Homo sapiens: one gene and its partner. The protein of the gene in region 1 interacts with the protein of each later gene in a pairwise test. Each region holds a gene or a part of one and is shown in the gene's direction. Other genes may lie near its edges.

Region 1 (12,770 bases):
GGGAGAGTGTTTAGCCAAAGTGATGACAGTAGAGATGACATGGTAGATGCATTCAAGACATATTTTGGAGATAGGACCTATGATACTTACTTTTGGAATGTAAAAGTACATTCACATTAGAGAAGGCCAGGAAAGGTATCAAGGATCAAGTGTGACTTGAGGCTTTTAACTTGAGCAGATAAGTGGAAACAAACTGGAAAATATTCAGTAAGAGGAAAGTTGAGGGGGGAGGTGGTGTGTGTCATGTTTTGATGGGTAAAATATTTTACACAGACTAATTTGGCTGCCTAACAGGCTGATCCGAATTATGTAATTAACATCTCTTCCTGAGACCCATATGGATTACAGAGGACATGAACATATGGCATAATGAGGTGTTAATTGTAAGCTCTGTGGATGGAAGAAATGAGCAGTGTGTGTGTTTGTATGTGTGTGTTTAAAGACCTAGAAATACGAACGTATCAAATAGTGCAATGTTGGGAATACAAATGAGAAGCCTCACTAGCCAACAGATCAACAGTATATATTGGTATAGACCATACATATTGAGTGCAGTTGGGGGTCAAGCATATTATTGTGTGCTCCTTTTGTACATTGTGCCCCCCAACCCTCCCAGCAAACCCATGAGGTAGGTATTGTATTATTATCCTCTATTCTAGACAAGGACACTGAGGCTCAGTGGTTAAAAAACATGCCTAAGGTCACCCGGCTGGTGATTAGAGTAACGGGGGCGTGAGTCAAGGTAGTCAGGGACTGAAACTGCTTTCTTAGCCAGAGTGTGCTACTACTAAAACAGCAAATAGATTTCAGAGGAGGCAGAAGCTACCTCTGGCCCCAGTCCATCAGGAAGGGGCAGGCTGAGGAACAACATCAGGCCACTGCAGAGAAGTCCAGTAGAAAGGTATAGTGCTGGTAGATGCTTTAGTGCATGTGTGAGGTTTTCAGATCCAGTCATGCGCATTGCCCAGATGATGGCACCCAAAGGCGAAATTTGATCATTCAGCCCCCAACTCCAAGCCAAAGAGCACCCAACTGGCTGCTTCTTTCTTGAGGATTGGATGTTACTAGAAAGGCAGCTCCTGGGAAGGGAAGAAAGCACCTTTGGCTATACTTTGATTAATAAACAGGTATGTATTAATCAACCCAAATGGCCTCATTAAATCATGGCTTGTGGAATTCTGCCCAACTTTAGGGTTTGAATAGCCATCGGAAGGGATAGGGCCACCTTTTTCGTGCAACTAGAAGTCATGAAAAAGGGCATGCTTGCCCTGAGACCGTCAGCACACATGATTCCTTTTATGTGGGCAATCTTGTTAAAAGACCAAGGCTTATGCCATCTGCCATCTCTCCTGTAAAACAGAATTCTAATCTTCTTACCCCTTCAACTCTTTATAAGATTTCAGTGGCTGTCTGGAGAGGGAAATTTCCATGTTATGACTGTGTGCGTGTGTGTGTGTGTGAGTGTGAGAGAGAGAGAGAGAGGGGAGGGGATTAAATGTTGGTCACTGCTTGTTGCTTTCTGTAAGCAGGACAATAGAGTGCACTGGTTAAGAACGCAGGTTCTGGGGTCAGAAGACCTAGATTTATTTTTGGCTGTGCATTTGGGAGCTGTGAGATCCTGGGAAAGTTATTTCACTTCTCTGAGCCTATCTTGTCTAATTTGTAAAGTGGGCATAGTACTAATACTTACTTGGTATGATATTTGGTATGTTTTTTTCTTTTTTTAGACAGAGTTTTGCTCTTGTTGCCCAGGCTGGAGTGCAGTGGCACGATCTCGGCTCACTGCAGCCTCCATCTCTCGGGTTCAAGTGATTCTCTTCTCTTAGCCTCCCGAGTAGCTGGGATTACAGGCATGTGCCACCACACCCAGCTAATTTTGTATTTTTAGTAGAGACGGGGTTTCACCATGTTGGTCAGGTTGGTCTCGAACTCCTGACCTCAGGTGATCTGCCCGCCTCGGCCTCCCAAAGTGCTGGGATTGCAGGTGTGAGCCACTGCGCCCAGCCACTGGTGTGATTCTTACGAGGATTAAGTGAAGTAAACCTAACGACACTCTTAGAAATGCCAGCACCATTTACATGCCCCATCAATGATACTTGCAACTGTTGATGTTGCTGTTGCAGTGCAGTGCATGCCACAAGGCAACATGACACAGTTGCAGAAATTTCTGAATGGTGGTGATCCCCCGTGGCCTAATTGTGAGGGACAGAGAACCATGACTATATTTTTGATAATAGATTAACAATGCTTTGTTACTTTCTGTTTGCTAGAAGAATAATTGTTTTTCTATGTAGAAGTACTGAAAATGTTTTTCTGCCAAGACCTTAGTATTTTCAGAGGATGAGGTTCAAAGCGCTAGTGTTGTCTGAAATGAGATAATGGATGGGGCAAAAACTCTTAAGGTAAAGTCTAGAACATTTTGGGCATTCTGATGCCCAAAAATGTGTGTTGAAAGTTGAGGGAATAATAAGCAAATGGTAATAACAACAGTTAATGGTTAGCTATTTCTGTGCCTAGCACTTTACTTCCCTGAATTGTCTTCTCCTTTCAGCCTCACAGCAACACAGTGCATTGGTATCTGAGGGAGGTAGAGTCGTGTGTTCACAGGTGGGGCCTGGATTTGAACTTAATGACAGTTCAGAACTATTGACCTGAATGATATTTATTTATTTTCTTTTTATTTGTTGTTGTTGTTACCAAATGATATTTAATATCTGAAATAGTATATGCAAAAAAAGAAATTTTAGGACTCATAAGGGAAAAACAGAAGTGAAAGAAGGAAAAGAAATGCTAAATGTTTCTCTTTTTTTCCCAGCTTGTAAATGCACTGAAAACAGTATCTACATTTGAAGTCCAGATTGTTGATTACAAGTATAGGTAAGTAATAGCCAATCTCAGCAGACACTGTCAACTTTTGCTTGGATGAGGTCAAGGGGGCTAGAAAGCATTTTTCCAGTGGGAGCCATTGGCATTTGTAGGCCCAGAAGGGACAAGTAGACACTACAGATGAATGAAATGGGCAGGTGAAGTCCCTGGTAACAAGGGCAGTTACTCTTTGGCTTTCTGGGGCCTGATGTTGTCACTCCATCTCCTTATTCAAAAGAAGTGATGAATTCAGATTTTCATTTAAAATTTCAGAATTTTTTGTTTGTTTGTTTGTTTGTTTTTGAGACAGAATCTTGCTCTGTCACCCAGGCTGGAGTGCAGTGGTGCCATCTCAGCTCACTGCAACCTCCACCTCCTGGGTTCAAGTAATTCTCCTGCCTCTGCCTCCCGAGTAGCTGGGACTACAGGCGTGTGCCACCATATCCGGCTAATTTTTGTATTTTTTGTAGAGACGAGGTTTCACCATATTGGTCAGGCTGGTCTTGAAGTCGTGACCTCAAGTGATCTGCCCGCCTCTGCCTCCCAAAGTGCTGCAATTAAAGGCATGAGCCACCACACCCGGCCTAAAATTTCATAATTTTAAAAAATTGGCAGACTGGCCACGATGGCTCACGCCTGTAATCCTAGCACTTTGGGAGACTGAGATGGGTGGATTGCCTGGGCTCAGGAGTTCAAGACCAACCTGGACAACATGGTGCAACCCCATCTCTACTAAAAAATAAAAAAAATTAGCCGAGTGTGGCAGCGTGTGCCTGTAGTCCTAGCTGTTCAGGATGCTGAGGCAGGAGAATGGCTTGAACCCAGGAGGTAGAAGTTGAAGGGAGCTGACATTGCACCATTGCACTCCGGCCTGTGTGACAGTACGAGGCTCTGTCTCAAAAAAAAAAAAATTGGCAACTAGTTCAAAATTTAGGTGTTATAAAATTTATCAAATATTTGATAACATTATCAAATGTTTGATAACAAAAAAGTTATCAAAATTTAGATGTTATAAACCTAATTTGCCCTGCCTCCTGCCAGATTTCAACATCTGACTGAAAATTATTTATATGGGGATAATTTGAGGGTCAGAATAACATGAAATTTTAAAAAAACTTACCAAATATTTACATTTCTTTTAAAACTCTTAACACAACTAAAAGGCTTAGAAAGACAGAATATGCCTATTATTCACAGTTTGGGTAATTCCTGTTGCTAGAATTACATCTTCCTGGTAAAAGTAGTACATGTTTCTGGTTGAAAAGTCAAGCAGTATAGAAAAGATCAAAAGGAAAAGTGAAAACTTCTGTCTCCATGTCCACCTACAGTCACAGCTGTGTTTCCCAAATCTAACACTGTGAACACTTTCCAGTTAAAAGAAGTATACATATCCCAGCATGTGGGTATCTAATATAGATACACTTAATTTCAGAGAATGTTGGCATGGGAGCTTTGCACTTCATTCATCATACATTAGTTCATTTGTGCAATAAATCTCTATTGGGGACCCATGAGCTGGTCACCAGTCTCAGCAGTAGGAATCCCATTATGGCGGATGGCATAGCCCTGGTCTTGAGGATCTCAGACACTGAATAGAGGTAAATAGCAATTGTAAAAACAGCTACTATTTATCGAAATGTACTTTTATGCTTACTTGCTTTATCTCATCTCACGCTTTCAACAGTCTTCTGAGTTGGCCCAGCTAGTCCCATTTTACAGATTATGTAAAATCTGCTGCGCTGAAGAAATGTTGTGTCAGTGTTGCTTGAAGAAATGAGTGAGCCAATATGGGGCCCCCACATCAGTCCCAAAACCATTCACCTAGATGAGGCTGGGAAGAAATGGAAAGAACTGGGCAGGGCACCTCTGAGGCTGTATCATTGACTGGCTTTTAAGGATATGTTGTAGTTTCTCAGATAAGCAAGAATGATAATGAATTCGTACCTTGCCAGTCTGCGGGAAATACTAGTAACATGTTGGCATGGGGATTGGTGAGTGCTGACCACAGGCGTTTCCACAACTGGCAGTGCAGGGGTATGTTCACCTGGGTGAATGGCCGTCCTTCCCTTGGCATCAGTTCACATTCCTGGAGAAACTGAGGCACATGTTCTCGTTGTGATACACATACACATGGAGCTGTCATCTTTTTCCTATGCGGAGTTTTTGTTGTTAGCTGGTGTAAAAGGGAATTCAGCTTCCCTTCGTAGATCCAAAATAATCTTGATCATTTATTTTTCTTTACTTTGGGTAAGTTGGGGCTGGGAGATCTCATTTCTTTCTGTTTATTCAGAGTGTCACCCTTATTCCAGCATTTCTCCCTAGCCTCACCTCAGTGAATTGTTTGGGGACTGATTTTTGGTTCAAAGTTTACACACTGGTTAGTGTCTTGGATTTAGAGAACACTTGTACAGTCCTAACATGCATAAAATTGTGGATTTGTCTGTTCCAAAGGCAGGATAATGCCCTGGTGGTATCTGAGATCATTTTGGAGGTACCCAGAGGGCATTATAAAAACTTAAATCACACAAGGAGAAATGTTTCTTTTTAAAAAGTGCTTCTATTGTCCTAAGGAAATAGTTTTTAATTTAGTGCTAGTGTGTCACAACATCTCTTTAACACTTGCCAATTTCTCTTTTTCATGAAGAAAGAGCAGGCCTCAGGCTCTGAGCTTTGTCTTGCAATAGTATCTACCTCGATTTGAACACTACTTAGTTTGATTATATCAATTTTTACAGTTTTGTTGATGTCATATGTCACTGCTTTTCCATTTAAGACAGATATTAAAGTTTCCTTTAAAAAAAGTACTTAAACCTAAAAGGATAGGTGAGCTTACTTAGAAAATATGTTAAATTATTAAGAAACTTATTAATTACTAGAGCGCACTTGAAATTGGCAAAAATGCTTCTTAAAAATGGAATGTGGTTTAAAATGGGCAATACACTTTTATAAATATCCTTACTGTGAATCATGAACTAACTCAACCTAATACTTCTCTCTTCTCCCCATCTCTCTCATGTTATTCTGTATGTTCACAGAGAACTTGGGTTTTTAGATCAACTAAGGATCACACACAACACGGACATATTTATTGGAATGCATGGAGCTGGTCTGACCCATTTACTTTTCCTTCCAGACTGGGCTGCTGTATTTGAACTGTAAGTGTTGGGAGGCAGTTTTACACTGAAGCAACTGATAATGCTTTTTATGCATGCTAAAGCTTTCATTCTGAGCATCAAAAGGCTTAATATTTAATCATTCAAAAAGAGAAGTCACATCATATAGACAATCTGGAAAGAAAAGAGGCCTGAAGCTAAAAATACAAAGTCTGCAGCCTGCCATTGCACTTAGTAAGCCAACTACCCCTTCATCTTCCCATCCCGAGCATGATATGGAAGATGTGAATCTGTGGTTTCCTTATTCTGAGTTTGTTCCTGCATACCTCCCAAACTCTGAGCGTCTTCTTGCAAACAGTGTAGTTATTGTGTTAAAAGAAAGCATTTATGTCTCATGCACGACATAGCTTCAAAACACAAGCCAACCACTTAACTTAGTGCTTGCTGATCCCATACACAGGGAAACTGAGGCCCTTGGGTGTTCATGATTTGCCCAGGGCATACTTTTAACTCAGTGGTTGGTTTATGGAGACATGACCTTCCCTCTCATAATAATTCTGCTGTTGGCACTGTGCTCCATTTTAGGTCTTGAGACACTAATAGCAGTTACTGTTACCTGTTTCCCCCCATTATGTCTAAATATCTGGGTTCTATGGTTTCATTTTAAAAGTGATTTGACTCTGTATTTAAATAGGAGGCTATTTAGGAAAAAAGTTGTCATGAACTTCCAATGCCCTGCAAAACATTTCAAAAATATATATGATATATGTAGAGAAATAGCCAGATAATGGATTCTATCTCTGTCATTTCTCTTATAGAGAGAGAAGGAAGGATGGAAGAAAGGAGAGAGAAGGGAGAGAAATGTAACTGAGAAAACTCAAGCCTTATAGTCTAATGGACCTGGGTTCTACTTTTGCATCCTTCACTATTTAGTTATATGACCTTGGAAGTGTTACCTATCCCCCTTGCCTCTTTCATACATTTAAAGACAGAGGTATTATAAGGTCATGCCAAGTCCATAGGCAGCAGGCCCTATTGAATAAGGTCAATTCTCTCCATTCCATGACCCTATTTTGTTTTTTAAAAGTTAAGTTCATTTAGTTCAGAGAATATTTTTACATTCTCTTCCTCAGTCTTGTTTACTGTCTTCCTCAGTCTTGTTTACAACCTTTTGCAAGGACATATTTGGGAGCTGCATTTTATTTTCGCAGAGTTGTTGATTTGGAAAAAACCTTGGACAAAAGCCTCATGTTGTGACACCCTTGTGTCCTTAGGTACAACTGTGAAGATGAACGCTGTTACTTAGACTTGGCCAGGCTGAGAGGCGTTCACTACATCACTTGGCGACGGCAGAACAAAGTCTTTCCTCAGGATAAGGTAAAGTTCAATCACAAAACTTACCTTGCTTCATTTTTAATTGGTTTAAAGTATCCAATTATTGATATGAAAAATGGTTATTGAACTTCAGTGCTGCAAAGATAAACTGTTCTCTGGAATACTGAATTGTTTTATTTTATATTTGCAAATAGGAGAAAAAGGGGAATTAAGCAACCTATATCTTTAATGTTACAAAGGCAGCTTCGTGAAATTTGGGCTTAGAAAGATCTATTAGATTATATATAGAGACGGGATCAACAAGCAACAGCCCTGTGGGCAAATCCAGCCCATGACATGTTTTTGTAAAGAAAGCACAGTCATGCCTGTCTGTTTATGCACTGTCTCTAGTTGTTTGTGCACTTCAACGACAGTGGAGTAACTGTGACTGAGACCTTAGAGTCAGCAGAGCTGAAAATATTTATCATCTGGCCCTTATCAGGAAAAGTTTGCTGGTCTCTGATGTAGAACATAAATTAGTTGCCTTAACCAAAGTAACATAATTTTCCTGCTGTAGAGAAAACCATGCCCTCATTGAGTTATGGATTCGTGTTTTGGTTTATTTTCACAGGGCCACCATCCAACCCTGGGGGAGCACCCGAAGTTCACCAACTACTCTTTCGATGTAGAAGAATTTATGTATCTTGTCCTTCAGGCTGCAGACCACGTATTGCAACACCCAAAGTGGCCATTTAAGAAGAAACATGATGAGCTATAAATATGCTGAGTCTGTTTGCAAAAAGAGAGTGTTTAAACACTCCAACACCCAGACTTAGAATTAAATCAGTAAAGCAATCTGTTATTTCCTATCCCCGAATTACCTTTTCTATGCCAAAACATACCTTCAGGATATTGTTATGTGTTGTATAGATGTTAAGTGTTTCATGTGGTTTTTGTGTCATTGCTATTTATCAATAGCAATAATTTTGCACTGAAAACTTTTTATAGTTCAAAAATTAAGCATGGACTCCCCAGTATACTTTAACTTTCTTTCTTTCTTTTTTTTTTTTTGGAGACAGAGTCTCACTGTCACCCAGGCTGGAGTGCAGTGGCATGATCTCAGTTTATGCAACTTCTGCCTCCCCAGGTTCAAGCGATTCTTTTGCCTCAGCCACCTGACTAGCTGGGATTGCAGCCTGCACCACCACACCTGGCTAAATTTTTGTTGTTGTCGTTGAGATACAGTTTCACTCTGTCACCCAGGCTGGAGTGCAGTGGCATGATCTCAGCTCACTGCAACCTCTGCCTTCTGGATTCAAGTGATTCTTGTGCCTTAGCCTCCCAAGTAGCTGGGATTACAGGCGTGCACCACCACGCCCAGTTGATTTTTGTATTTTTGATAGAGACGGAGTTTCACCATGTTGGCCAGGCTGGTCTCGAACTCTGGGTTCAAGAAATCCTCCCACCTTGCCTCCCAAAGTGCTGGGATTACAGGTGTGAGCCACCACGCATGGCCCTGAACTTTCTCTTTTTAGGAATACCAAAGTTTTCAACTTTTTCAGCTTTAGAATTTGTAAATATTTTTGTAGAATATCATATGACTGTAATTCCAGAGTGTTCCAACTTGTTTATGATATATTTGGGTAAATTTACAACTGTTCTTTTATTTGCCATAATCTGGTTATAACACTGTTTGTGGTAGGAAAGGAAAACATGCAAAACATACACACACACACACACACACACACACACACGCAGAGTTGTGATTCTCAGTACCAAGCTATAGGACCATGTTATAGATCAGCGTTTAGTCACCTCCAGGTTATATGCATCGAGAACCTGAATAAATCATGCCACTATATTAATTTATATTACATGTTTCATATTTAAATCATGTTTTCCTAAAATGTAGCAACTACATGTGATAAAAGCAAATTAGAACATTCTGTAGGACTGTCTTGCATACCTTCTGTCTGGTTTCCACTGATTCCTTCTTAGCCATGGAGAGCATTTGTGATTAATTAATTTATATATGAAATAATGGTTTCCATTTTATGCGAGTATTTGTAACTGCATATACCAGTGCGTGTGCGTCTACCTCTGTCAGCATGAAAGTATTCCAGTCTTTAATTTCAAAAACTTCAAATTAGCCTCATGAAGAGAATTTTTCCCTGTGAAAAGTAAGACCAAGAAAAAACAAACTAAAGACATGTGACTTATTCAATGAAAGTGAAAAAGAAGCTCTAAAACAGTGTCATTGATTAAAAAGAATATCTGGAATGTAGCCCCACTCTTTGAGTGGGATTCATTTCTTACTGCTTATGAACTTTCAATTTAGTAGTCAGAAACCATGGATTTATTTTACTGCACAATGTGAAGTTTACATTTTATTAACACTTGAGTAGTCTGATTTAGAGACTAGTTACTTCTATTTTTTAAAATAATGGAGTAACAAATTACAGAATAGCTAAATAATTTTTTAAAAATATTTTACAGTTGTAAAAAATATCCATCAGAAAAATGACACACAAAACAAAATATCTGGACCTTTACAGAAGACGTTTGCTGACCCCCACTTTAAAGGATTGGAACAGTCTTCTAGAATTGAGGAATATTTATTAAAATACCTGTAAAGAAAATAGTGAATCACTGTAGCAATGGCTTTGATTCAGACCTTAAAATCACATAAGAAGAATTACAACATGTTATGGATTTTTAAGTGGCAGGTATTGTAACTGTTTTTTGTGTGCAAAATACTGAGTAACCACTGGGAAAATATTTCAGATGAAAGGGATGACAAAAGCATGTTGCGCTTTGCATCAGCAAGGCATTGACTTCTGAAAAAATGATCTGAAAAAAGTTTCACCGTTTGTCTTCTTACCTCATTTTAAGAAGCATGTGAAAATGGGATACTATAGACTACTGAGAATTTCAGAAATTGAGAACAATTTCATAATAAAACGGCTATATTTGAAGAGAGAATACATTTTATATAAACAGGAAAATACATTTGACACTTTATGGAATTTTATGAGACTTTTTGTGGGAACAGAAGGTCTTCAAATTGTAAAATGTAAAGATTGCTCTTTTTATTAAGTCTTTAACAGGGATGTATTTCATTGTATGTTTTGGGTATGGCTTTGGAATAAATCATTTTATATTTTATTTGAATATCAGAACCATTTTTAAGGTTTTCTGTGTCTGAATGTTTCTGTGCTTCCTTTTTGGCAATCTGGTAGCTCTTAGATTATAAAAATTAAGTACCTCTCTGATGAAGAATTCAGTTTGATCAAAAATGCCTTTTATTTAGCAGTTTATTACATGATGCTTCTATAAATGTTATATTGTATAATCATTACCAAAATGACATAAGAATTATGGTTCCTGTTTTTCATGTGAAGAATGCTTCCCTAAAGATCACAAGCCTTCTGATTCCACGTTCACAGTCTTCCATTCGTTTAGGGAAGTCTTCCATTCCACTCTAGGGAAGTTATGGGACTTCCCTGAAGATCACAAGCCTTCTGATTCCACGTTCACAGTCTTCCATTCGTTTAGGGAAGTCTTCCATTCCACTTTAGGGAAGTTATGGGACTTCCCTGAAGATCACAAGCCTTCTTCTGATTCCATGTTCACAGTCTTCCATTCGTTTATTTACTTGTTCATTTAGTAAATATTGATTGGGCTGCAACTTTGTATCAGTTACTATTCTAAGTTCTGGGAATACAGCAAAGAATAGATAAAAGTTATTGCCCTCATGGAGCTTACGTTCTGATGGAGACAGACATTAAACAACATAATGGAGCTTACATTCTGGTGGAGACAGACGTTAAATAACATCAATAAGATGTACCGTGTGCCAGATCCTGATACGTGCTATGGAGAAAACCAAAGAAAGGGATGTGGAGTCTGGGGTGGGGTGGAGTCCTGCACACTTAAGTAGGGGGTCAGGGAAGCCTTCATTGACTCAAGACTAGAAGGAGGTGAGGGATGGAGTTATGCAGATAACTGGACAAGGAGCATTCCAAGAAGCTAGAAGAAGATGTGCAAAGACCCCAAGGCAGAAGCATGCCTGGTATGTTTGAGGAAGAGCAAGGAAGCCAGTGTGGCTGGTGTGATCAAGGGCAGAGGAGTAGGAGGCAAAGTCAAGAGATAATGCAACAAGGGTGTAGATGGCAAGGTTCTGATGAGATGGAAGCCATTGAAGGGATCTGAGTAAAGTAGTAAAGACCTGCCTTATCTCTAACACACTAACTCTAGCTGTTACGCTGAGAATAGGGTGTGGAGGGATGTCTTAGGAAAACAGATTCTGGGATGGAGATTTGAATGCAGATAGTTTTTGGGGGGAAGGTTCTCACGATCAACACCTGTGAGGGTGTAAGGGGTCCAGGCTTGGGCAGAGGGAGAAATTGAGGGGCAATGCCAGGTGAGGCCTCAGCGGGGTGCTGTAGGGCTGGAGTGGCCTTTCAGTGAGGTCCCCAAATGAGGCAAGAAATGCACGAGGCAAGAAATGCACGTAAGTTCAAACAGGGGCCATCCCAGAGAGGGGTGGGGCCTTAGCAAGGCCACTTCCTTCAGCTGAGGGCAAGGCCTGGTGAGGAGCTCAGCTGTGACCCATCAGCAGCCAAATGTCAAGCAATCTGGGGACTGAGTGCTTCAGTCTGAAGGGGATCTCAGCGGCACATTCACTAGCGGGTGAGGTGGTGCCGAGGTGCCGTTTAGCTTGTCTTACTCTCCCTCCTGCTTCCTGTCAACTGAAAGTTGGATCTAAAGTCTCCTTAAGATTCAGATTGAATGTCTGTTTTTAAAGAATACTTATAGTTGATACCGTGTACTGCTGACTGAATATTTTAGGCTTTGTGGGCCACATATGGTCTCTGCTGCGTATTATTATTTGTTGCCCTCCTCCTGCAATCTTTTAAAAATGTAAAAACCGTTCTAAGATGTTTAAATAGAGGTTAAGGAACTTGCCCAAAGTCACACAGCCAGTAGCAGAAGGATTGGATATAGGGCTTTCTTGGTGAAGGAATTTTGAGTTAGGTAGGGATGTTTACATGTAATGCAGGAAGGAAGGAGGTCGGGGAGGAAGAAAGGGAGGAAGGAAGGAAGGGAGGGAAAGAGAAGGGAGAAATTAGTTGGGGGATATAGAACATGGAAAAAACAGTCCTGGAGTTGGGCCTTTTCTTGCCGTTAAAAAACGAATTTTTTGTTTTGTTTTTTAGTTTTCCGACAGGTCTCTCTCTCTCACCCAGTTTGGAGAGCAGCAGCGCAATCACAGGTCACCGTAGCCTCAAACTCTTGGGCTCAAGTGATCTTCCTGCCTCAGCTTCCTAACTAGCTGGGACTACAGGCATGCACCCCCAGGCCCGGATAATTTTTCATATTTTGTTGAGATAGAGTCTCACTATGTTGCCCAAGCTGGTCTCAAACTCTGAGCTTAAGAGATCCTCTGGTCTCAGCCTCCCAAAATGCTTGGATTAC
Region 2 (12,770 bases), about 100 Mb from region 1:
GGTCTGGGGGCACCGGGCTCTGACTCGCGGGAGCTGCCGGGCGGGGCGGGGGCCAGCGCGGCTCCGGCGCCGCTAGAGCGGGAGGCAGAAGGGGAGCCGCGAGCGGAATGCGGGCAGCCTAGGTCTCGGCAGACGCCGGGCCCGTCCTGTCCCCCGCCTTGGCGCGCACCCCGCACGGGCAGCTCCGTTCTCCGCCTCGGACCGAGACCATGAAACGGAGACGCTTTTCCGGCCGCAGACTCCGGGGAGGTCGGGAGCAACGTCTGCCCTTTTACCTGGGAGCAAACTCCTCAAAGGGACTCCCGCCGAGCCCAGCACCCCGACCAGGATGGTGGCGCCCCGAGGGGCGTCTGTCCCCGGAGAGTGGTGACTCTCCCGGGAGCGGCGAAGAGGACGTGACGGGAGCGGTGTCCAGGGAAGCTCCCTGCCCAGAGCCGGCAGCCCCAGCAAGGGGAGCTCTCCTGCACTGCTTCAACCCTCAGTCTCCTCTCTTCTCCCATTCCAAAGCACATCAGCTCCCCTCTAATCCAAGAGGGCCAGGTTAGGGCTGCGTGGCCACGCGGGATGCAGCCCCCACCCTCCTTCTCTCTCCTGTGTCACCCTGCCCCCTCCCCAAATGAGTATTTTATATTGCGATTGAAGAGTGAGCAAAGCAAAGGCGAGAAGAGATGCAGGAAGGCTAGAGCAGCGGGGCTCGCTCCTGTTCTGGCACTCCTCATCCCCCCACCTGTGTGAAGCTCGTTTCCTTGAGATTTTGAGCGGAGACACTCAAAGGAACTGGCTCTGGCGAAGGGATCCCCGCCTGAGTGTCGGTGAACGTCACTGGCCCGAATTGCCCAAGGGCCGCAGGATGTCACCCTGCCTCCCCCTAGGTATAGGGTCTAGGAGAGCGCTGGGGGCAAGGTAGCTCTCCTCCTCCGACTGAGTGCAGGGAATGGCGCTGTCCGCGGTGCTGAAAGTTCTCAGAGGCTGGGTGCTAATACCGCCAGGGCCCACATTCCCTGCGAGCAGAAACTGCGTTAGAACCCTAAAGGGTTCTAAGCAAGCGACCTAGAGAAACAGGAGAAGAAGGGGCTTTGCCTTTCCCGGTTTTCTGCTTCCCCAGGACTCCGCTTGGGAAAAGGTTCCCGGCTTTCCTGAGTGGAAGAGCAGGAAGCGGGTGTCACTTCAGGATCCAGTTTTGCTAACTTCGGGAGCTTCCTCGTTCTACTTCCTATACCTGAGCAGTGAGACTTCCTGTCGGTAAAGTGTTGAAAGGCAGTTAGGGATGCTGTTTTGATAATAAACATTTCTGTGGCTTTCAGGAATCAGAGAATTGTTAGGCTACACAAAGGAGGGGCTTCATGGTTGTAGCTTTTTCCTCTTCTTAGAACCCTTCTTTCCCCACTGCATGTTATTTACATGCTCTAGATAAAGATCGCTAAGCAGCCCTGTATGTTTGTTTCTTTAGCTAGTCTTTTATATTATGGGCAAGATGGGGAAAGGATTGAGCCAATTTGGGGAGGCCTATTTGTACTGAACACCTCTATCTGCTGGGTAATAATATTTCATTTAAACTTCACAATAGCTGCCAACCAAAAGTATCACACAGAGAAGGAAACAGAAACTTGATTCCAGAGATTGGATTCAAAATCAGATCTATTTAACTCAAAGTCCAAGCCATTTTCATGCCTTCATTTTGGTATTTGGCTCTGAATAGCTGTTATTGGAGATTATAGCAGGAGAATGACAAAGGAGGGAGGCCTGCTCTTCTCTTTCACACACTCTCCTCTCTTCCAACCCTTTTCTCTTTAATCCGTTCACCCACTCACTGTCATGCACTCCCACCCTCCCAACTGCTTTTGCATGCTGCTTGAGATACCACTGTTCACACAACTTCAGCTCCAATATTATGGAAACAAGTTAGAGAACTAAACCAGCAGCCTTTTCTAAAAGAGTAGCAGGGCTTCAGGAAGTCTGGAGAACTAGAGTCCACATGTACTTTCATATTTAGAATTATACTGTTGAATTTTAGAACTAGAATAGCTTTGAATATCATTTAGCACCATCGTTTTACAAGAAAGAAAACTTGGAAACCAAAAGATGGTCATTAGTCTAAGTCACATGATTGAAAAATTAGAACCCAGTTAACTTGATTCCAGGCCCAGGGCCTTTCCCACTATTTCATGGTGTCTGAAATACTCTTCCATACTGCTTTCTTTGATTATCTTTGACTAAACGTCAGCATCAGTGAACTAAATTAAACAACATGCCAAAAATACAAACACTTAACATACAAGCATTCCTCTTACCTTTCTTCCAACTCCTTTGTCTTCCAGCTCTTTCCCCTCTGGTCCTACTATTCCAGTGTTGTCTAACCCAACATACCTGGGAGATATGACCCACCTTCCTCAGTAACAGTTTTCTCTGAAGCAGCAATTCACAAATGGGAATGGTAGTGTGTCATTTCTTTACTTGCCCTATCTTGTCTATATCTCCTCTTCTATGACCTATTCCCCAAAAAATAATTTTCCCAAAATTGGTTACCCTAAGCAACTGCCCATGTTCTCATAGGGACTGGGAAAAGGCCCTAATAAGACCTAAGGATTTTTATAAATAAAGATCATTATAAGTGCTAATATCTATGAAATGCTTATCATATGTGAGGCACTATGTGAAGTTATTTCATCAATCATTTTACTGAATTATCACAATTCTGTCAAGTAGGTGGCTCCACTAAAGATGGTCCTAGGATTCTAGTTCGCTCTAACATACAGCAGAACCTGATGTTCTGTTCATTTCCTCTTTCTTCTCTTTCCAGCTCATAGTAAAGTCTCATCTTCATCAATTGGATTTTTGTATTTAATTGATAGTTCCATCCTGCTCCAAAACATAGCATTTAGAAATTCAAATTCAGTTCAAATGACACTGTTTTGCTCTCTCATCTCTTAATATTTACCAAACATATTCTCCCCATTTGTTATCTCTTATTTAAAAATTCCCATATGGCTTCTTATTGATAATGTCAACATTCTGCTTCAAACCTTCTCTAGAGCCAATTAAGGTATAATTTGTAATTAAATACATAACTTCTATTGTACCTTCACTAGGTGATCTGTCAAGAATGCTATTGCTGAGGTGCTCTGGGCCCTGTGAACCAGAACCTTAAACTGTCTAGAACTGCTCTGTCCAACATGGTAGTTGCTAGCCACATGTAACTATTTATAATTAAATTTTAATTAAACTTTTTAAAATTAAAAATTTAGCCCCCCAGTCACACTAGTCATATTTCAAGTGCTCAATAACTCTATATGGCTAATGACAACTGTGTTGGACAGGGCAGATATCAGAAAATTTTTATCATTTAAGAAAGTTGTGTTGAAAAATGCTGCTTTAGACAGTACTAAACACACCCTCACAGCAACCAAGAACTAGGAACTGGGAAGAAGTAAGGACCTACTCTTCTTTGAATCTTCTGCCAAGAAAGAAAGAAAAAGCCACTTATGCCTAATACATCACCAGTAGCCCAAAGATACCTAGGACAATTAGGCTATGAAGGAGTGTGCATGTCTTACTTAAGGAGCTGGTAGCCTCTGGAGTTTGCTTCATATGAATTCTATGTTACTATAAAGTAAAATATTCCATGAATGAGGTTTGCTGGTTTCATGAATTTTGACTTAGATACAATCTGAAAGTTCCAATTCAAAATCCAAGTTTATAGATTACATGTATATGTAATAACATGTGTGTGTGTTTATCTTGTCTTAGTAATCATAGTATGATAGACATGGAAAGAATATAAGACTTGGAGTCAGTAGTACAGGTGTCACATACTACTTGGTGACATTATGAGGCCCTCTAGAGCTCCATTTCTCCATCTCTAAGATGTTGATGAGAATTGCCATAACTATCTCAAAGGACTATTGTAAAACTCAAAGTGTAGGTATACGAAAGTACTTTGTAAGGAGCATGATTGAATCTGCAATGGTTTATTATTTTATATAGATATGGTACAATGTACAAATAGGGTAGTTCAGGCTGAATGCATTTCTGAATGATTTTAATCTGATATGACTGTATTTTTGCCTTTGTGGTCATTTATTTCACTGAAAAGTGGAACGGTGAAGAAAAAATTTAGTTATTGAAATTTCTGATTGGTTAGATTCTATTAATTGAAATACCGTGCATTGTTTGTTGTTTAGTTTATTTGGTCCTGAACATTTTCTTCTCAGGATTAAAAAAAATAATAACTAGGAAATCTAAGTTGTTTGGAACAGCTTTTACCTTTTAACTAATAGTTTTTAAGTAATCATCAATAATGAACCCATCATGGTAATAGGGGTTCAGAAATAACAAAATACAAGCATTATGGATATTCCTCAGTGTGAGGGGGTGAGAGGGATAATTTTCAAAACATATTTTTACTAATTACAAATTGAAATGAGCTTCTATCCATTCTCATAGATCAATCAGAACAAGAATAATTCTATTTCATGCATTGATTAAACCAAAACAAAAGTGAAGGTCATTAACTTGACTGAATTATTGAGTTTGCATTAGGGATTCTAACCTTAAATAACAAGTCTTTATTCATTCTCTAAGTTGAAATCTGTTGGGGTCATTAGGAGAACCTTATGCATCTGGCTAACATTTACTCCCAAACCTGGCATCTATGACCTACTCCCGCACTTTGATCTGTGTATGCTATTTATGCGTCAAGTAAAACTGCTTTTCAGATGCAGCCATACCTTCTATAGTGGCTCACGATTTTGATACTTAAATATTTTTCTCTTATAACACAAAGATTAACACAGTGCTCAGATATTGTAGAAAATAAGCCTGGAAACAAAGCTATTCCATCAGATGTTTCTTCACTGTATTTATTAGGTTTTATCATCTTGAAAACTCAACGAAGTCACTTTATTTATTCATTCATTCATTAACAAAGCACCTGAGAATCAAGCTGAGTATGACCAAGGGCATGAGGTTTTATCTCCAGTTCCAGAGATCTAGTTTACCTTTGTTTAGAGTTAACAAAGGTATAGATGCTACCTTGTAAGATGCTCTGCCAGGTAAATAGTTGAGATATACACTTAGCCACTGTTTCTGGTCAAGCCTGCTGTCCTCAAGCCTTTGTTGCATATGGGACTATATTACTGAAGGAAAAATAAGCGAAGCTGTTAACTCTGGCCTCTAGTAGATGATGCTAGCTTTAACAATAAACATATGTTGTTGGGCGTCATGATTTATTCACTTCATTGGACTTGTTTACCTCTTGGAAAGACCTGGATTTTGGAAAGGGGAAAATGCCATTACCTTGGAGCTGAAAAGAGTTCTTCTCTGTCTGTAGCTTAAAGGATTTCTCTAATTGTAGATCCCAAGAGATAAAGAGAACTGACAATGTAGCTTTGAAACAAATCCTAATAGCATACAATCATCCATTTAATCAATAACATAGTTGAAGAATGTCCTATTTTGACACAAAAATGTTGTGGTTAAGGATGTTTGGAACACATGGATGATCAATAAATATTTGGTGAATTCAGACCATTGTTCCAGGTTAATTCATGCCATACACTCGTCTATCTCTACCAAGAATTCAGTATTCCCTATGGCATTTTCCTTTAGCAAATAAAACAGGAGGCAAACACAGTATATCAAATCTTACCCTAATAACCACACTTCTAGCCCTTCTCGGGGCATAAATAGTGATGGCCAAGATAGACTACTCCTGAGAACCGTGTCTTGCTGCTTCACCCAGAAAACAAAGCACAAATCAGCCCAAGGGCCTTGCATTTCACTGTGATGAGGCAACTTCAGAAACTCAAAGCTTAAATGGAGTTGTGTGTTCTTTTCCACTCTTATCTTGAAGAGATACCTGTCATTTCCTTCAGAAAGTATTTGGCTGGCCTTCATGATAGCAGCAGGCAATTGCTATTGTTCCTAAATTCAGAAGAAGCTTAGCTTAGAATGAAAGCACATATATTAATTAGAGGAGAACTAGCGACATTGCAGTCTGATGGTTTACAGAATATTATCCTTTTCCAGGAATAATAAGGCTTCCCTTTAACGGTTTTAACTGGTGATTACTGACAAAAATGAAAGAAAAACAGCTCATTCTATTCTAGCAAGTCAATAAGGAAACGCCTAGAATTAACTGATTCTTATTTGCCAAAGGCAAAATATTCCAACCCAATGAACAACAAATGATCAAGCTGGTTCTCATTTTCTCTTCATTTTAAAAAAATTTTTCCATGTTTTTGAAAAATAATCAGTAAATAAGAAACAATTGCACCCAGGTGTTTAAACATTCTGTTGACAAAATGGTCTTCAGAAATGGAAAGGCTTAATTGTTTGTTAGAGATTATACAACATATTATTATGTCAATATTTTATAACAATCACATAACTGAACTCTCTCACTTTAGAGAGAAATTGATGCTGGGAACACTCACCTGAGTTGATGTCAGAGGAATATGACTTGAGTCTTCTCTCTCTCAGGCAATTATAGAACCCACTCTGCATTTTTTAACATCATGCATCATTTCATTAGTCATGAAAACTTGTTTAGTCTATGAGTTTATCAAAGATTCAGGTTTATCTTTTCTCAAAGATTCAGGGAGTAGGAAAGAGTATGTGTTTGGATTTCAGATTATTTCCCTTTGTACCTCCAGGTGAAAGAACTACTGGTCAAGGATGGTCAGCAGGTAGAAATTTCAGGGGTGGAACTATAAGCCATAGAAAAAGATTCAAAACCTCAGCATCATCCATGTTGCAAGAACTTAGGCAAGGATTTAACTCTTCTTACTTTTTAATCTTCATCCCTAAAAGAAGTTATTTAGATTAAATAGTGTACAATATCCTGCAAGCCATAACATTCTATGGTTCGATGAAATAGGGCCAAGAGCTTGAATAATCCATTATTTGCCTCCTTAAGACCGAAGAATTAAACATAAATCAAGATTCTTATTTTTACATCATTATTTATCAGAAGTTCTGAATTTCATGCTAGTACCTTACCTGGAAACAATAATGATAATGATAGCTAATACTTATATACAATTACTATGACTTTATAAGGTTGGTAATGCTATCATCGCCATTTTACAGATGAGAAACCTGGATACTAAAGTAGTTAAATTACCTGCCCAATTTGACACAGGTAACAAGTTTGTGCTACCATGCTACACCGCCTCTATAAAAACCACAAATCTGACAGATAGATAGCTGATGTGTGCCATTTATAGCCACTTGACACACCAGCCAATTCTCTGGAGAATTTCTATTTTAGCTCAATTTTTTACTAGAAGAGCAACCAAGATGGTGAATAGAACTTCAGTCCTGTGTGTGGGAATCTACATTGTCTTTCTGTAAGATGGCTCTTGTGCTTTTGCAATTGATGTCATTGACCAATTGTTTACGTGATTCAGCATTGAATGTTGGTGCTGTGCAGGTGGCTGCATGTGGTGAGGACCACTCTTCTGCCTCTTCCCAGAATGTGTGGCCAGCCACACCACCAGAAATAGATGGATGCTGGTGCAGGATCAATCCAGCACCTTCTAATGCTATAAAGGTCAGCCCACCACATCTTTACTGTTCAGTAGAGTCTTCTAGCTTCTGCCTTTAGGTTTTTGACTCAGTGTAACAATCTAGACAGCTTTTACAGTAGAGAGGGAGAGCTCCCAGAGTGTCATTTCCTGGAGGTAGGCTTGGGTCAAGGCTAAGACTAAAACTTTCAAAATCATGTTGTGAAAATCGTTTTCTTCTCATTAATCCTATGTTAACAAATTAGTCATAAATACAATACACCACAGTACCCATCTGTTTCACTGTGTATTTCAATGTACTGAATATACAAATGGGCATTTAGCTCTTAATATGGTATATCTAACCAGCTGAGAATGCTCTGACAGTAGTCAAATATACATGTTTATTCTTTAGCTCTAGTTTCTGGCTTGTTAAACTAGCTACATATCCCATCAACACCAAGGCCAATTACGGAATACATAACTCTACTTCTTCCTCTGTGGTTTTCTTTTTTTTTTTTTTTTTTTTTTTTGAGACGGAGTCTCGCTCTGTCGCCCAGGCCGGACTGCGGACTGCAGTGGCGCAATCTCGGCTCACTGCAAGCTCTGCTTCCCGGGTTCACGCCATTCTCCTGCCTCAGCCTCCCGAGTAGCTGGGACTACAGGCGCCCGCCACCGCGCCCGGCTAAGTTTTTGTATTTTTAGTAGAGACGGGGTTTCACCTTGTTAGCCAGGATGGTCTCGATCTCCTGACCTCATGATCCACCCGCCTCGGCCTCCCAAAGTGCTGGGATTACAGGCGTGAGCCACCGCGCCCGGCCTCCTCTGTGGTTTTCTAGATACTCTGTGGGGAGCGGGATGGCCTAGGAGTCAGAAGATCTGCTTTCCAGACTCAGCTTTGAAATGTACTACCTGTGACACTTGGGCCAGCACCATTCACTACTTCAAGACTGAACTTCCTTACCTTTAAAATAGGGGTAATAGATCTTGCCCCTCACATTACAAATAGGGCCAGTGAGATGGCATTAATTAAAGCTCCTTGTTAACCATAGAGTTAGTCCAGAGGAAAGAGATGGGTTTTCCATCCTTTCAGTCTTTCCCAGCCAGAAATTACTCTCAAGCTGTTGATACCCAATTCTGAACCAGGGTTGACAGCTAAATCAATGTCTTCAAGGTTAAGAAGAGCTTGGATTTAAATTTGTAAATCTAGAAAATGGCACTTACAATAGGAGAGGCCTCCTGGTTTCTTCCAAATTAATGGTCCTCAACCTGAGGCAATGTCACCTCAATAAGGGGTATTTTATATTGTCACAGATACTGGAGGAGAGGGGAGTTACTACTGACTTTTGGTGGACTGGGATCTAGAATGTTAAATATCCTGCATTAGACAGAAAAATCCTGCAGAATAAAAAATGTCCTGTCCAAAATGCCAATAGCACTCCACCCCCACTGAAAAATACCGCTCTAAGTAATGTGCTGTTCCTGGTCCCTAATTCTCCAATTGATGCAGACAGAGAGCGTTTACTTTTCATCTCCACCCACAGGTGAAATCCAGCCATGCTCATGTGAGGTCTGTAGTAGTTATTGTTCAGAAGTATGACCAGACTTCCAGTAAGTTTACCAATAAGTAAAACAATGGGGTCAGAGATCAGTGGTTTTAAAATTAGCCCCCAGAAGCTCCTACAAAAAGCCTCCTCCAACCTCTGCAGGGGCAAAGATTCCCAGCAGGTTAATATGCCTATAATGTGAGAGCTGGCCTAAAGGTTGGCATTTAGGGATGCAAAATCAGTAAATCATGATTCTAAAATGACTATCTTTGCAATTTATTGAAGAAACATTGTAATATTCACTTGTTTTATGACAAGCATGGGCCTAGCTAGGCACTGGATATGAGACATAATCCCTGCCTCAAGTCACCAGTAATCTGAAAGTTCCACAGATGTAATCCCCACTAATTATGTATGCAACATGACACATGCTATAACATATTATGAGGGAGCCTCCAAGGAGAGACCAGGAAACAATTCACTTCCACAGAGGAAATTATAATTGAACAGTATCTTGAATGGTATATAATATTTTTTCAGGTGGATAAATGAGAGAGAAAGCTATTGTAGAAATGGGACCAGCATAAGCAAATGCTGAAGGTGTGAACAGAAATGATACAAGTGCAGGCTGACCTTATCTGGCTGGTGGGAGGTCATACTGGAAGGACTGAAGAAACTTGAATACAGATAGGTGGATGTATTTATTCAGCCAGGGGCTTATCCTTTGAACAGGGATTTTATGAGTATCTTAGGAATATCATTTGAATTCAGGGCTCATGGAGTCCAATCTTGTAACTAGAAGAAATCTCAGAAATCACCCTACCATGCTCTTTTCCCTATGTATTACAGTTGAAGTAGTTAAAACCCAGAGATATTGAGTGACTTGCCCAAAGTCAGCTAGTAAATTTGTGGCAGTATAAGAGCTAGAACCTAGTCCCTCCTCTCAGTTCATAGCATTTTGTCCTGCTCTGTGCTGCCTTTGGGAATTTTAGCCATCAATTGAGCATAACCCAATGTAACACACAAAGTGACTACTAAATATTCATGAAGCTCAAGTTTTCCATTGTTCACTATGAAGCTATACCATTGTTCCTTAATTACAAGCAGGTGATAGATAAGACCCTGCTTCTACATTCTGAGCTCCTTCTACATACAGCATTCTCTTCAGAAACACAGACAGACAGTACACTAACACATGAGCATGACATCCTTTGCCTGCCACACACATCCTCCCCTGCCTCCTCATTTCAAACTGCCAGAGATTATGGAGTCACAGCCTGAACAGAAGGCATCTTAATCTCTGGTGGTTCTGTAAATAATATGCTGTTCATGCTTGCATATAAATTATCACAGTCTCTCTATTTTCTAGATGAGGGAGGCTTCAGAAAGATGAAGCTGCCTGCACACAGAGCACATAAGAGATAGGATTTCAGACTCCAGAGTTTCAGCCCTCTTTGTAACAGGGTTGAATTTTTCCCTCATCTACATGCTCCTAATAATTTATCCAGGCTTATGGTCTTAAATTTCACCTTATAGCCAAATTAATCTAGTCTCTGTATATTTAGGTTTCTAAAATCAGTTACTTCTTACTTCCCTTTCTCTCTAACCACTTTTCCTCCACCCTTCATTCAATAAGCATTTAATAGAAATCACCTAAGCTAATCCATTCAGTTGATGAGAATAGAAACTGAGACCCAGAGAGGTGAAGCCACTTGCCCAGGTTTGCTCAGTTAAAAGCAGTACGGTGACTAGATTCCCTGACTCCCAGTCCAGGGCTTTGCCCTTCACACTATACTGCTATTTCCCAAGGATAAATAACATGGCATTTCCCACTCTCAGGCTCCCTCACTCCTTGCACAACCCCACAGGATGGATAGAAATGACTGATTGCATGTGCTCTGAGGTTCATTCCAGGACCTTTTCTAGAATTCCCACAACTTGTTATCCTTCATGCTGTATTGGCCCATCTATCACATTAAGAAGCTGGTTAGGGAAGAGTTTGACATACTTTCTGGTCTAGGATATTTATGATCAATGCCACCACTCAGGTAGTGATCACCATAGGAAACAGTGTGCTCAGGAAGAAAAAGGGCAGAGTCCATGGCTCCCATCATTTGAGAATAAGGCAAAGCTCACCCAGAGTTTACTGTAAGTGGCAGGATATTAGATTCATAATCCCAGAGACCAGGCAATTGGGCAATTAGATGGATTTAAGCAAGATTGGGAGTGGCCAAGAAAGTGAAAAAAGACAACTGCCAAACCACTTCTGCTTCAGGGGCAGGGTATTTTGCCTGGATTGATCACCATGATGCATTTCATTACTGTAGACAAAGATCACATTGATAAAAGACTTTTTTAAATCAATTGAACTAAAATTTTCCATTTATACATAACTTCTCAGGAATCGTTTTAAGACAAAACCAGATGGTATTTCAGTAAAGATTATATTGAAAAGAGAAGCAAGTAAGAGAGGAAAGAAACCCCAGAACTAGCTTCTCAGGTAGGGCTTTGTAGGGTCACAATTGTCTCACAGGCTGATCAGGCTAATTAGGTACAGAAGCTTAATTTTATCAGTTTTATCAAGAGTGATCCAGCTCTGAAGAATCTAGCCATGCTCCCCAGGTCCCAAGAGACTGATTTGTTAGCTAGATGCCAATATAGCCACATACAATAGAAGATGCTTCTAAGTGTGGCCCAGGCTATTTCCTTCCTAATAGCAGGACCATGAGAAAACCAAATGAGTGGTCAAAGATAACCTGTGGGCACAGTGTCAGGATTAATGGAGTGGGACAGACAGTCTTGTGAAATGTGCCATTCAGGCTGCAACAGAGACAAGAGAACTCTTCCAAACTCCACCCAAGAACACTTTTCAGGTTACCAGAATAGTTGTGTCCTTCAAAAACAGGGTCTTGTTCTCTCTGTTTCGCTAGTGGTGAAGAAACTGGCAAATTATTTTGGGAAAAGATGGAGACTTTATCTAGTCTTTATGCAGCCCCCATCTTCCTTAGGGTATTATTCTAGGCATGTTATAATACTCAACTCATAGCCTATCTTACTTGTGTCAGTGACATCTTGTCCAAAGCCCCTTACCAAATCTTTGAACTCCTGGGCCTAATTCTCTGCTAAGGCAATGAAGATAGATCAGCAAAATCATTATCATTATTCACGTACTTGTATAAGATCCATTACGATTAGTCTGCTTCTGAGAAAGTTGTTTAATTGTGGATGAACTGTACAGATGGTGAGAATCATGGTCTCAGGTGGCATGGCACTTGAATCTCATATTAGTGACAATCTTTTGTTGGTCTCCTTTGGAGAGTTCTGGTAGATGCCACTGATTAACCATCAATAATAAATAAACCATCCAAGTGGTTGGGTTATTTCTGTAAGGGACACATCTCTTGTATTTTGTGCTAATTCTGTTTGTGTCATTTCAGAGGGCACTATGATCTGGCCTTGCTCTGAGTGCACCTGAGTCTGGTTTATCCTTGTCAGTAATCTCCATGTGTGGACCCTGACATTTGAAACTGAATCTGTTAGTCACTCTCACTACAGAAAACAGTCATGTGGCGACTATGACTCATCTACAAAATGCTGAAGGAATAGACTCCCAAGAGGTTTTTTTTAAAAATCACGCAACATTGCTACCTCTAAAAGAGGCCAAACAACCATTTTGAATATTTTTATTTTCCCCTTGAGCTGACTGGTTATCCTGATT

The links.
Region 2: the proteins of EOGT (region 1) and SLC7A14 interact in binary tests that used the Homo sapiens proteins (3 or more experiments, as listed by UniProt).

Annotation. Positions count from the first base shown.
Region 1 is NC_000003.12:68,972,918-68,985,687, reverse strand, and holds the end of EOGT (EGF domain-specific O-linked N-acetylglucosamine transferase isoform a precursor), read left to right. Parts: intron 1-2,815; coding exon 2,816-2,877; intron 2,878-5,900; coding exon 5,901-6,020; intron 6,021-7,252; coding exon 7,253-7,355; intron 7,356-7,923; coding exon 7,924-8,070; 3' UTR 8,071-10,463; downstream 10,464-12,770.
Region 2 is NC_000003.12:170,572,893-170,585,662, reverse strand, and holds part of SLC7A14 (solute carrier family 7 member 14), read left to right. Parts: intron 1-12,770. UniProt on the Homo sapiens protein: Imports 4-aminobutanoate (GABA) into lysosomes. May act as a GABA sensor that regulates mTORC2-dependent INS signaling and gluconeogenesis. The transport mechanism and substrate selectivity remain to be elucidated.